Linked DNA regions of Homo sapiens. The protein of the gene in region 1 purifies or fractionates together with the protein of each later gene. This does not show direct contact. Each region holds a gene or a part of one and is shown on either strand. Other genes may lie near its edges. The genes, in order: KITLG, PIGU and SLC67A1.

What was found.
Region 2: the proteins of KITLG (region 1) and PIGU purify together in Homo sapiens (affinity purification with mass spectrometry, with the first as the bait; one large-scale study listed by BioGRID). This does not show direct contact.
Region 3: the proteins of KITLG (region 1) and SLC67A1 purify together in Homo sapiens (affinity purification with mass spectrometry; one large-scale study listed by BioGRID and IntAct). This does not show direct contact.

What each region holds. Positions count from the first base shown.
Region 1 is NC_000012.12:88,578,227-88,581,972, reverse strand, and holds the start of KITLG (kit ligand isoform b precursor), read left to right. Parts: upstream 1-1,501; 5' UTR 1,502-1,694; coding exon 1,695-1,709; intron 1,710-3,746. UniProt on the Homo sapiens protein: Ligand for the receptor-type protein-tyrosine kinase KIT. Plays an essential role in the regulation of cell survival and proliferation, hematopoiesis, stem cell maintenance, gametogenesis, mast cell development, migration and function, and in melanogenesis.
Region 2 is NC_000020.11:34,565,450-34,569,095, forward strand, and holds part of PIGU (GPI-anchor transamidase component PIGU), read right to left. Parts: intron 1-3,646. UniProt on the Homo sapiens protein: Component of the glycosylphosphatidylinositol-anchor (GPI-anchor) transamidase (GPI-T) complex that catalyzes the formation of the linkage between a proprotein and a GPI-anchor and participates in GPI anchored protein biosynthesis.
Region 3 is NC_000011.10:2,919,221-2,922,600, reverse strand, and holds part of SLC67A1 (solute carrier family 67 member A1), read right to left. Parts: intron 3,295-3,380; coding exon 3,194-3,294; intron 2,885-3,193; coding exon of another isoform or gene 2,843-2,884; exon of another isoform or gene 811-2,842; intron 500-810; coding exon 398-499; intron 166-397; coding exon 45-165; intron 1-44. UniProt on the Homo sapiens protein: May act as a transporter of organic cations based on a proton efflux antiport mechanism. May play a role in the transport of chloroquine and quinidine-related compounds in kidney. Plays a role in the regulation of lipid metabolism.

The DNA.
Region 1 (3,746 bases):
ATCTTGAAGAAAAAAAAAACAATCATTTGCTATGCCTCCAGTATCCAAATTAAGCTCATTTTGATATTTGATGTTCGATATATTTGTACTAAGAGTACCTAATGTATAAAAATCTTTCTAAGCAACTATCAACTTGGAATCATGATTGATGTGCTGTCTATACATATTTTTTCTAACATGAGAAAGTGAGAACGCAGTCCCCCACTAAATTATGCAGTCGAGTTTCCCACATTTGGGGAAATCACAGAAGTCAGCACATCTGGAGTGAAATAAACAAGCTTCGCCCTGATTACAGGTTTGGCATATTCATGTTTAACAAACGCACCGGAACTAATTAAAGCAAATTTGGACTCCTACTCTATTATTAAAATAACTAATTCCTAAACTCATACATTATTCTTTCTTTTAAAGATCACTGATGTTAATGTTCAGCTAATATTTTCTTTTAAAAAATTAATGAAATGCTTTGGAATGTTCTCCAGTTATACAAACAAAAACAGACACATTCTGGAGAATCAATAAAATATTTGAAGTATTTTTTAAGACTGTACAGCTGGAGCTCCAGGTTTAAATTAGAGCTCTGCCATTTACTAGATATGGTTGGTCAAGAAAATTAACCTTGTATTTCATCGTCCATAAAATGGGAATAAAATAATAAGATCTACACTAATAGATTTGATGAAAGAATTTAATGAGATAATCTATGCGAAGTTCTTAGTCTGGCACCTGGCACATGAATAAGTGCATCACATAATGATGTTAGCTATTATTATTGTGGTTGCATTATCTTTCCGTTCAAAAAAGTACAACTTTCAAAGCCTTGCTGTGTTGGCGACCTGTAGTTTAATAATCTATCGCTTCTCTTTCAATCTTAATTTCTAAAGACACAGTAACAAACCATTCCAAATGAAGCGTCTCCCCTTGCAATACTTAACCTTGAGTCAACAATTCTTGTAATTATTAAATATTCATTCACTAAAGTAATTGTTTTTTTTAAAAAATAGAGGTGATAGGACAATGGCCTAACTACAGATCGCAATTAAACTTTATTTCTCTAAGGCAGGCAGGGTGAATTCTTTGCTCCGAACCTCCCGGACTCCTCTCCCTCTCCGACTTTGTATAACAGAGGGAGCTCCGAGCCCTCTCTGGCGCGCGAGGTATTTCGTCTGTCCCCGGGGGTGCCAGGTGAGCCCCAGCGGATCCGGGAGGGTAAGCTGGGACTCCTCGCGAGCAGTAGCTGCAGGGTACCAAGCTTCGCCCTCTGCGTCCCCGCGCCTTCGCGGTCTCCCGCCAGTGCAGGTCCGGGGCCCCCAGGCGAGCGGACAAGGTTGGCCTAATCTGCCAAACTTCTGGGGCATTTACCGTGCTCTGGCCGCCCTCCCGATTCTTCCCTCCGCGCCCTTGCCTGCTTCTCGCCTACCCCGGGCTCCGGAAGGGAAGGAGGCGTGTCCGGAGCAGGCGGGCGGGAACTGTATAAAAGCGCCGGCGGCTCAGCAGCCGGGCTTCGCTCGCCGCCTCGCGCCGAGACTAGAAGCGCTGCGGGAAGCAGGGACAGTGGAGAGGGCGCTGCGCTCGGGCTACCCAATGCGTGGACTATCTGCCGCCGCTGTTCGTGCAATATGCTGGAGCTCCAGAACAGCTAAACGGAGTCGCCACACCACTGTTTGTGCTGGATCGCAGCGCTGCCTTTCCTTATGAAGAAGACACAAGTGAGTAGGGCGCGCCCGGGAGCTCCCAGGCTCTCCAGGAAAAATCGCGCCCGGTGCCCCGGGGAAGCCGGCGCTCCCTGGGACTTGCAGCTGGGGCGTGCAGGGCTGTGCCTGCCGGGTGAGACAAGAGGATGCGGGGGAGGCCGGCGTGGTGTGTGATCCCGAGCCGAGCCGGGTGAGCCAGGGAGAAAAGGAGTGGGAGTGCTGAGAGGGAGCCAGTGTCAAGTTTGGAGCCTCAGCAGTTAAGTTTTGAGCTGTCAGTCGGAAACCGTAATTCCCGTCTGGTGGAAAGATTGGCTTTTGGGCCATGGAATGTTAAGTTATCACGGGAAGGCATGTCTTTGCATAGGAGACGGTTTTCCCGTGGATTCCAGGAGATTATGAAACAGCACCCCACGCGCCACCCTCACTAGCTCTCTCACTCAGATTTATTTGTGTAGCCCCGAGGTGGGCGCCGGGCACCAGGAGCGGCGCGAACGCGGGTGCAGCCGCGGGAGCGAAGCCAACGCGGAACTCCTAAGCGGCAGCTCTCGGCGGGGCGGGAACCTGCCCGCCTGCCCGGGAAACTTGGCTCTCGGCGGTGTCTGCCTAGTTTGCAGCTCTGTGTGGGCTCTAAAGAGCTCTAGTACCTCCACAATGCACGCACCTTTTTCCATTTCAAAAGGGATAAAGGCTTTTTATAAAATAGGCACCTCTGAATGATAGTGATTGAGATAATTCCCAGTGCTGCTAAATTCTGCATTATACATAAAGCACTGTGGGTAAAGCGCTGCCTGGGGGGACAATTAGATTTTTTTTTCCCTTGAAGAAAATACCTGGTTCTTCGTTTAGAAAGGGCCGCCACGGTGCCCCTATCCACAGTTCTCTTCACCATTGTTGATTGTTACCTCCTCTCACTTTCCCCCTTAGAAATTGTTATGTGTTATCTGCCGCGGTTGGCTAAGGGTTGCCCTTTCACCCCCCAGAGGTTCTGTTGGAGATTGCAGTTCCTGAAATGTGTGGAAGGGGTGGAAGTGGTGGGGAAAAAGGAAACCGGGGTGTTTGTACACATCGTTGGTGTAGAATGAAGGCATCAATGTGCTCAAAATGCTTTATCAAATGACCTGCTTAGCATCATATTTTAAACAGATATCTAGGCCTGCAAAAAGTTGCAAGACTCTAGCCCCTTGTACCGGTGTGGTAAAAGGCAGGGGAAAGGGACATTGCCTGGCTAAAAGAGGCTTGCATAGTCTCTAGAGCACTCTCTAAGAGAAAAGACGCGATGTGCCTCTCCCCTCTCTTACAAGCAGGTTAGCTTTCAGGCAAGGCATTGAGCACCGCACCTGGAATCACCACAGCGTGCTGTCGAAATGCAAATGTTAAAGATTCTTGCAACAAAAGAAAAGTTTTATTGTAATCTCTTGATTTAGACAAGCTTTCTGCGAAATTATAAGAAGGGTAGAGACCTATTCCTTCTTATAGTAGCATCTGCTCCCATGGATGGTGGTGAGATCTGGGGGAAGAAGCTGCTACCTTCTAGTTCAGGAAAAGAGCCTAAACCTTCCTATTTAAACAAGAACACAGGAGACAGATAAGGTTAATGTCCAACACTCCAAAGCCAGGGGATGTACTATCAAGTCACTTTGAGAGGCAGTAGGATTGATTATCCTTGCACCCTTGCTTTGCAAAACAAATGTGAGCTCTGTAATCTCCTTTCTCGCTTTGATTAAATGGCTGTGTAAATCGGATTACATGGAATAATTCCATTGAAAACTAGAAAGAGGTCAATCTAGTCTGAAACATTGTGACTGTGGCATTAGTGACTCAGTGCTGCCGACCAGAGAAATTTGAGAAAGCTAAGTATTTTAGATATGTGACCTGTTCGGTCACACATCACACAAGTTAAAGTGCAGGCCCTTTGGGGGAACTTGCTGATGTTAAACGGCTTGTAGGCAAAGGAGGGCAGTACCCTTGTTGAATGAAGGCATTCATTGCCTAGGATCTAATGACCTTCAAGGTTTTTTTTAAGAATACTTCTAGCGATTCCACAGTCACTGA
Region 2 (3,646 bases), on another chromosome or scaffold:
CGGGGTTTCACCATGATAGCCAGGATGGTCTCGATCTCCAGACCTCATGATCCGCCCACCTCAGCCTCCCAGTGCTGGTATTACAGGCATGAGCCACCGCGCCCGGCCGGGCTCCTCTAGTCTTTGTGCCAGTTAGGACCCCAGAACATGTCACTCTGTGTCCTCAGGTCTCTGGATCCCACCCAATGTGGCTGAAATACTGCCTTGCCAATCCCCTTCTCAGACTTGCCCTCTTCTCTTCCTGCAGCCACCTCTCTGGACACACACACACACACACACACACACAGGTGCACACACACGCACACTCACACTGCTCACACATGCACACACAGGTGCACACACATACATGCACGCTTGCACTGCTCACACAGGCTCGCACTGCACTCACACACAGGTGCACACACACAGGTGCACACATACACGCATGCTTGCAATGCTTAGACACACATGCTTGCACACACACATGCTCGCACTGCTCAGACACGCTCACATTGCACTCACAGGTACACATACACGCACACAGGTGCACACATACATGCAAGCTTGCAATGCTTAGACACACATGCTCACACACACAGATGCACACACATACACGCACGCTCTCACTGCTCACATGCTCGCACTGCACTCACACACACACAGATACACACACATACACGCACGCTTGCCTGCTCAGAAGTTCCCTGGCTCCCCCTGCCCTGCCCAGCAGCGCTGCAGCTCCCACCTATCCCTCAGAGGCTCATCTCCTGCCAGGAGTCTTCTCTAACCCTGCATTGTTACATGGACCCTGAAGTGAAGTCACTGCCCACTGGCCTCCCAACCAAATGGGGCTGCATTTGCTCCAGTTCTATGGCCCCAGGCCCGGCACAGGGCCAGCTCTCTCTGAGTTGTTTGCTGGTCTGTACCCTCTCAGCGCTGCCCCCAGGGACGGCTCGGTCCACATTCCTCTCTATGGCAGCCATGAGGGCTCCAGGGCCGCCTCCCTCTGGGACCATGATGAAGAGCTCATGGGGCAGCTAGCTGATAAAGGGGTGACCAGGGACAGACAGGATGAATCAGAAGTAGAACGAAACCCTCAGAACATGCTCTAGTGCAGGGCAGGATGGAGAGACAGGGAAATGAATATCTTCTGAGTGTCTGCCCTGGTCCAGGCCCTTTAACAAAAAAACAATATTGTCCCTTTCCAACCCCCCAGGGTAGGGCTGACAATGCCTACTTAGAGAAGGGAAGCTCAGGGGTTATGGGCCCTGCAAAAGGTCACATGGTAGGAAGTGAAGAGTTAGGGGCCAGTCCTGCCTGTCAGAGGCCCAATCCTGAGTTCTTCCACAACCCCCTAGGGTCTGCACCCACATGAACTGAGTCCTGCTACATGCCAGGCCTGTGCTGACACCTCAGGTACCTTTACACCCTGCGGAGTCTGCTCTCCCCAGTTCACAGCTCTGTCACTCAGTGGAGAGAGAGAGAGATTGACTTTTTTTGTAAAAAGCCAGTAGAGGTTGTTAATACAGTGTGTCTTGAAACTACTGGGCTCAGGACAGCAGCCTTGTCCACCACCAGGGCTGCAGATTCCTAGAGAAGCAGGTGCTATCACCCAGGCATGTCCTGGTTCCCCAGGCCTCCTGCTGCTGTTGGGGACACAGACACTGACATTTGACAGTCAGCCCACGCTGGGGGGAATGCATGTGGCCGTCACAGTTGGCAAAGTGCAGCAGCCTCTGCCCACCTGCCTGGGATCCAGGAAGCTGGGAGGCAGAGGAGGCTGGCGGCCGACTGTGGAGCTGGACAGCACTTTGGCGTAACCTGGCAACCCACAGGCCGGAGCGGACATTATGTAGGAGGAAATGGTGGAGGAGAAAACTCCACCCTCCAGCTCTGAAGATGCAAAGTAACAAGTGAAATCTCTGGACCTCAGTGTCAGGGTCTGAGAGGTCACAAGGTGAGACTGAGGATGAGGCTACAAGTAACTGTCCCTTACATGGCACTTTTCACTTACATGGCACTTTTCCCACATTCAGTCCTCAAAACCACCTTCCCAGTTTGAGGAAACTGAGGCCACCACCACCTCCCCCAGATTTCAACCTCCCCTAGCCTCGTCCCTGGTGCCCTGGATGCCAGGCTCACACCTCTTACCTCTGCTCTTCCCAGCAGTGAGGTTTTCAGAGCATGGATCTGATCACATTTATCCTCAGCTCTTAAAGCCAAAGGTGCAGTCTGGACCTCTGCATAAGAGGCCCTTGAAGGCCTGTGGTCTGACCACTGCTGTCTGAATTGCCCTCATTCCCTCTCAAGTGGTACAGCCAGTCCCACTGAGCTCCCAGCAGCACGGTGTTCCTCCTTTGCTCCCTCCTTCCTCCTCTCTCTCTCTCTCTCTCTCTCTCTCCCTCCTTCACCCCCACCCAGGTCTTGCTACCTAAAATCATAGAACCCAGTTAGATCCTACCCATCCCTCAGGACCCCACTTAGAGGCCACCTTCCCCAGGAAGCCTCCTTAACAGCCCAGCTCTGGGCTCCCAGCTCGTCAGGCTGCCCTGTCCTGCCCATGTCTTTTCCTTTCTCTCCACAGACCGAGGGCTCCTTGGAAGTACACCTCTGTCTCATTCACCCCTCGCAGAGTGCCTGGTGAATAGTAGGAACCTAATTAACATTTGCAAATAAATAAATTAGCTTCCCAGGAGTTACGGGATGTGCCTGAGGCCAGCGAGCCAGGACAGACAGGGCTGGAGTCGCTATAGAGTTTGGGCTTCCAGAGCCCTGGCCTTCTGTGGCCTTTGTCCTGCTGTATGTAGCCTGGGCTCTTCCTGTCACTCTGGTTGTTGGGGAGGAGAATAGGCTGGGAAGGGCCTGTGAGGGACAAGCTTGGGATGCTCAGTGCTGGAAGGACAAAGGAATGAACTAAGACCTTGACAGAATTACACTAGTTGGGAAAAGCAAAGTAAACACGCACATCCAGCAGGATGAGGACAAGGGCTCCAGGTTGGCCACAGGCACCGCATATCGGGAGCAACGAGCCTTCCCACACACAGACCTGGGATCTTGCACAGCCCAGGCCACACACAACCGGCAGGAAGAAACCTGAAATGGGTCTCGAGCCAACCCCAAATGGGGGCTACACACCACTCAGCCACTAATGACCCACCCAACACGTCTCCAAGCATTTCCTCATAGGTCCCATTTCCCAGAATGACACACCAGGCCAACTGAGAGGCAACTCCGGGAGACAGGATTGTGGTTTCACCTGTGTTGCAGTGAACAGTGAGTCCCAGGCAGGGGACAGGCAGCATGCAGGAGGTTGGTGTCAGACCTCGGGCTTCAGGCCTCACTCAAAACAGAAAGGAGAATGGCCAATGCAAGGCCAGCCCAGTATCTGAGGGTCTGCAGTACAGGGAGGGGTCAGGGCTGGCCCCTCATGGCAAATAGGCAGTGGCTTGAGGAGTAGGGTTCCAGATGATCCAGATCCTGCTTGGAAGGGTGGGTGGTTGGCCAGGTGCGGCAGCTGACACCTGTAATCCCAGCACTTTGGGAGGCTGAGGCAGGAGTTTGGCTTGAGCTCAGGAGTTCGAGCTCGTAACAACATAGCAAGACCCTGTCTCTACCAAAAATTTAAAAAGTAGCCAGGTGTGGGGGTGTGCCTGTAGTTCTAGCTACT
Region 3 (3,380 bases), on another chromosome or scaffold:
AGGGCTTCCTGGAGGAGGCTGCTCCACTCGCTGGCCACACTCACCTGTGTCCGAGGTGGAGACAGCCTTGATCAGCATGCTGTCGGTGACCACGTTGAGGGTGCAGAGGCTGAACACCAGGCCGGGCACCAGGAGGCAGAAGTGGAAGACGCTGGACATCCAGGCCTGGGACGGCAGGCGGGGGCCGAGCTGAGTGGGGGCCTCACGGGACCAGGCTCCTCTCTGGGGTCTTACCTGTCCCTCCCCACCCTGACTGCTGTCCCTGCTGAAGAGCTGGCCCCGGGTGGGTGTGGGGGGCTGGAGGAGTCCCCAAGGGCTTAAGCACAGATGGTACCGCCCAGGTGGCCTTGCCCAGTGAGAGGGTCAGGTGAGTGGGCCCAAAGCGGGGAGCCCTCACCATGGCCAGGCCCACCACGATGAAGACCAGCACGCTGGCCCGGAGCAGCACCTCCTCCGAGAAGTGGCTGCTCAGCTGCCCGATGACCAGGCCCTGGGTCACCTAGAGCCAGACAGAGAGGGTAGAAGTGGGTATGGGGGAGGCGAGGGAGGGGCGTCTGGACTGTGGCCAGCCCCCAAAGCTGGGGACCTCCAGACTGGCCTGTGGTGGCCAGGGCCCCTCTGCAGAGAAGGCCCCTCAGCATCTGCAAGCCCCGGGGTCTCTCCCTACTCCGCCAGCAGTGACTGCGTCAGGATGGGTCTGAGATCCCTGAGGAGTCGGGGCTCCTCTCCACAAGGGAGGAAGGAAAGGCCCACACCAGGGACACCGGGGATGGGCTCGGTGGGACAGGCTCGGCCGCAGGCTGCTCCCGGGGATGGGCTCGGTGGGACAGGCTCGGCCGCAGGCTGCTCCCGGGGATGGGCTCGGTGGGACAGGCTCGGCCGCAGGCTGCTCCCGGGGATGGGCTCGGTGGGACAGGCTCGGCCGCAGGCTGCTCCCGGGGATGGGCTCGGTGGGACAGGCTCGGCCGCAGGCTGCTCCCGGGGATGGGCTCGGTGGGACAGGCTCGGCCGCAGGCTGCTCCCGGGGATGGGCTCGGTGGGACAGGCTTGGCCGCAGGCTGCTCCCAGGCCAGGGCGAGGCTCTCTATCTGGTCATCTCAGCTCCTCCACTAAGCAGGGCGTGCTGGGCCAACGCGCCTGGGAGTGCAGGGGTGGCCCCGGCTGGAGGAGCCCCTGGGCTCAGTATCTGCCCACAGGGCAGGCCCAGCCTGCAGCACCTCTGCAGGGGACCAGTCACCCTCCCAAATTCCTGCCAGGCAGAACAGAAACTGCTTCCAACCGGAACCATAAATGGTTTAAAAATCTTACTTTCACACTTGCTTTATCTTAGGGTTTTTTGGGATTTTAACACCTTTTTTTTTTTTTTTTTTGAGATGGCGTCTCGCTCTGTCGCCCAGCGTGGACTGCAGTGGCGCGATCTCGGCTCACTGCAAGCTCCGCCTCCCGGGTTCACGCCATTCTCCTGCGTCAGCCTCCCGAGTAGCTGGGACTACAGGTGCCTGCCACCAGGCCCGGCTAATTTTTTTTTTTTTTTTTGTATTTTTGGTAGAGACGGGGTTTCACCATGTTCGCCAGGATGGTCTCAATCTCCTGACCTTGGGATCCGCCCGCCTCGGTCTCCCAAAGTGCTGGGATTACAGGCGTGAGCCACCGCGCCCGGCCTAACACGTTTCTTAAAGGAAGAGCTGGCAAGCTCACTTCGTGCAGTGCGTCTAAGAGGGGCTCACAGTGAGTGCCGTGAAGGACTTCAGATCCAGGACTCAGACACCAAGGTCAGAAGCCTATTTGTGTTGCGTCTCAGTTTGCCCATTAAGTTTAAAAAAGCTTGAACTTAGGAGCCCTGCAGGTTGTGACATGAACCTGGAGCTAACAAGCTTGTCCCTGACCGGACTTGGGGTCTGGGGGCTACTCTGCGGGCCCCCTCCTTCCCCTCCTCAGCCTCCTCTCCCGCTGCTCAACCTGTGTCGGGGTCCCCATGCCTCACCCTGCTCCTTCCCCGTCCCTGGGCAGTTCACCAGGCCCAGTTCCTGCGAGGGTGCCCCGACGGTGTTGGTCACCACCCCAGCTCTGTCTGTCTCAGGCAGGGTCCCCACTGCAGCCATGGCAGGCCCAAGTCCCCCACAACACAGGCCAATGACTGCTGTGTCCAGCCCAGCTGCAGGCTTCAGCCAGGGCCTGGCTAAGCGTCCTTCCTCGCAGTGAGCTGGGCGCAGCCTGTTCAGAACAGGCCCCATGGCAACAACCCCGGATTGTTACTATTATTGTTGCTGTTGTTTTTCTGTTTATCTCTTTTTACCCTGCCAGGGTGGCCCCTCCTGCCCCAAAAAGCAGAGGCCCTCTCTGCCCACGGTGGGGGTCCAGCCCCTCCCAGGAGCAGCTATTTTAGCACTAGTCTAGTCCTGGGCCCAGAGGCTGAAGAGCAGATGGCTTGGAGGTGCCAGGAATGCCACAGGCTTCCGGAGAGGCCGAGAGCCCCCACCCCCACCCTGGCGGGTCCCAGAATAGCCCCCCCGCCCCGCACTCTGGCTGTCAGGCAGCCATCCTGGGTGGTGGCAAATCATCACCTGTCCCCACCACCCAGGGTCTGGTCCAGAAGCCCAGAGGAGCTGGTGGTGGAGGTGTCTCGCCCCGGCCCGGGAGCTGAGCGGTTCTGGGGGGCTGGCAGACAGACACCTGCCGCATCGGAGCTGCCAGGGTTTCAGGGCATCCTTCCATGACAGTGTGGCCTCTGAGGGCTGGCGTCTTATCCTACCATGACAGCGTGGCCTCTGAGGGCTGGCGTCTTGCTCCTATGGGACCTCCAAAGGGGCCCACGCTGGTCTAACCACTTTGCCACGTTAGGTCATCTCATCTGCCAAGGACCCTGCAAGGCGGGCACTTTGGCCTCATGGGACAGATTTGGAGAGTTTGGGAGACTTGCTCTGGTCACACAGCTGGTGGGCAGGTGGGCTGCCACAGATCCCAGCCAGCTGCCCATCAGAGGCCGGAGTCCACTGTCCTCACAGCGTGCCCACCACTGCAGTTGGCTCTCCCTCCCTGGCCTGTATGCCTGGTTCCCTGTGGACCCTGACATGTGCCAGATGGGAGGCCAAGGGCTCCCCAGCCTCCGCCGGGGAGGAGCCTCTACTCTCAGAGGCCTGCCCCACTGGAGACCCCTGCCGTGCCCCCCAGCAGGCCCTGTGTGCCCACTCACCATCTGGAGGAGCCCGAAGAAGGACATGAGGTAGCCAGCTTGGGCGGCCTCCAGCTGGAAGAAGTCCATGGAGATGATGGAGAACATGACCATGAAGAGCCCTGAGCCGGGGCAGGGGAACAGGGGTGAGTACCCCCACACCCCGACCTTGGCGCCCACCTCCCTCCCGCCTCAGCAGCCTGGCCAA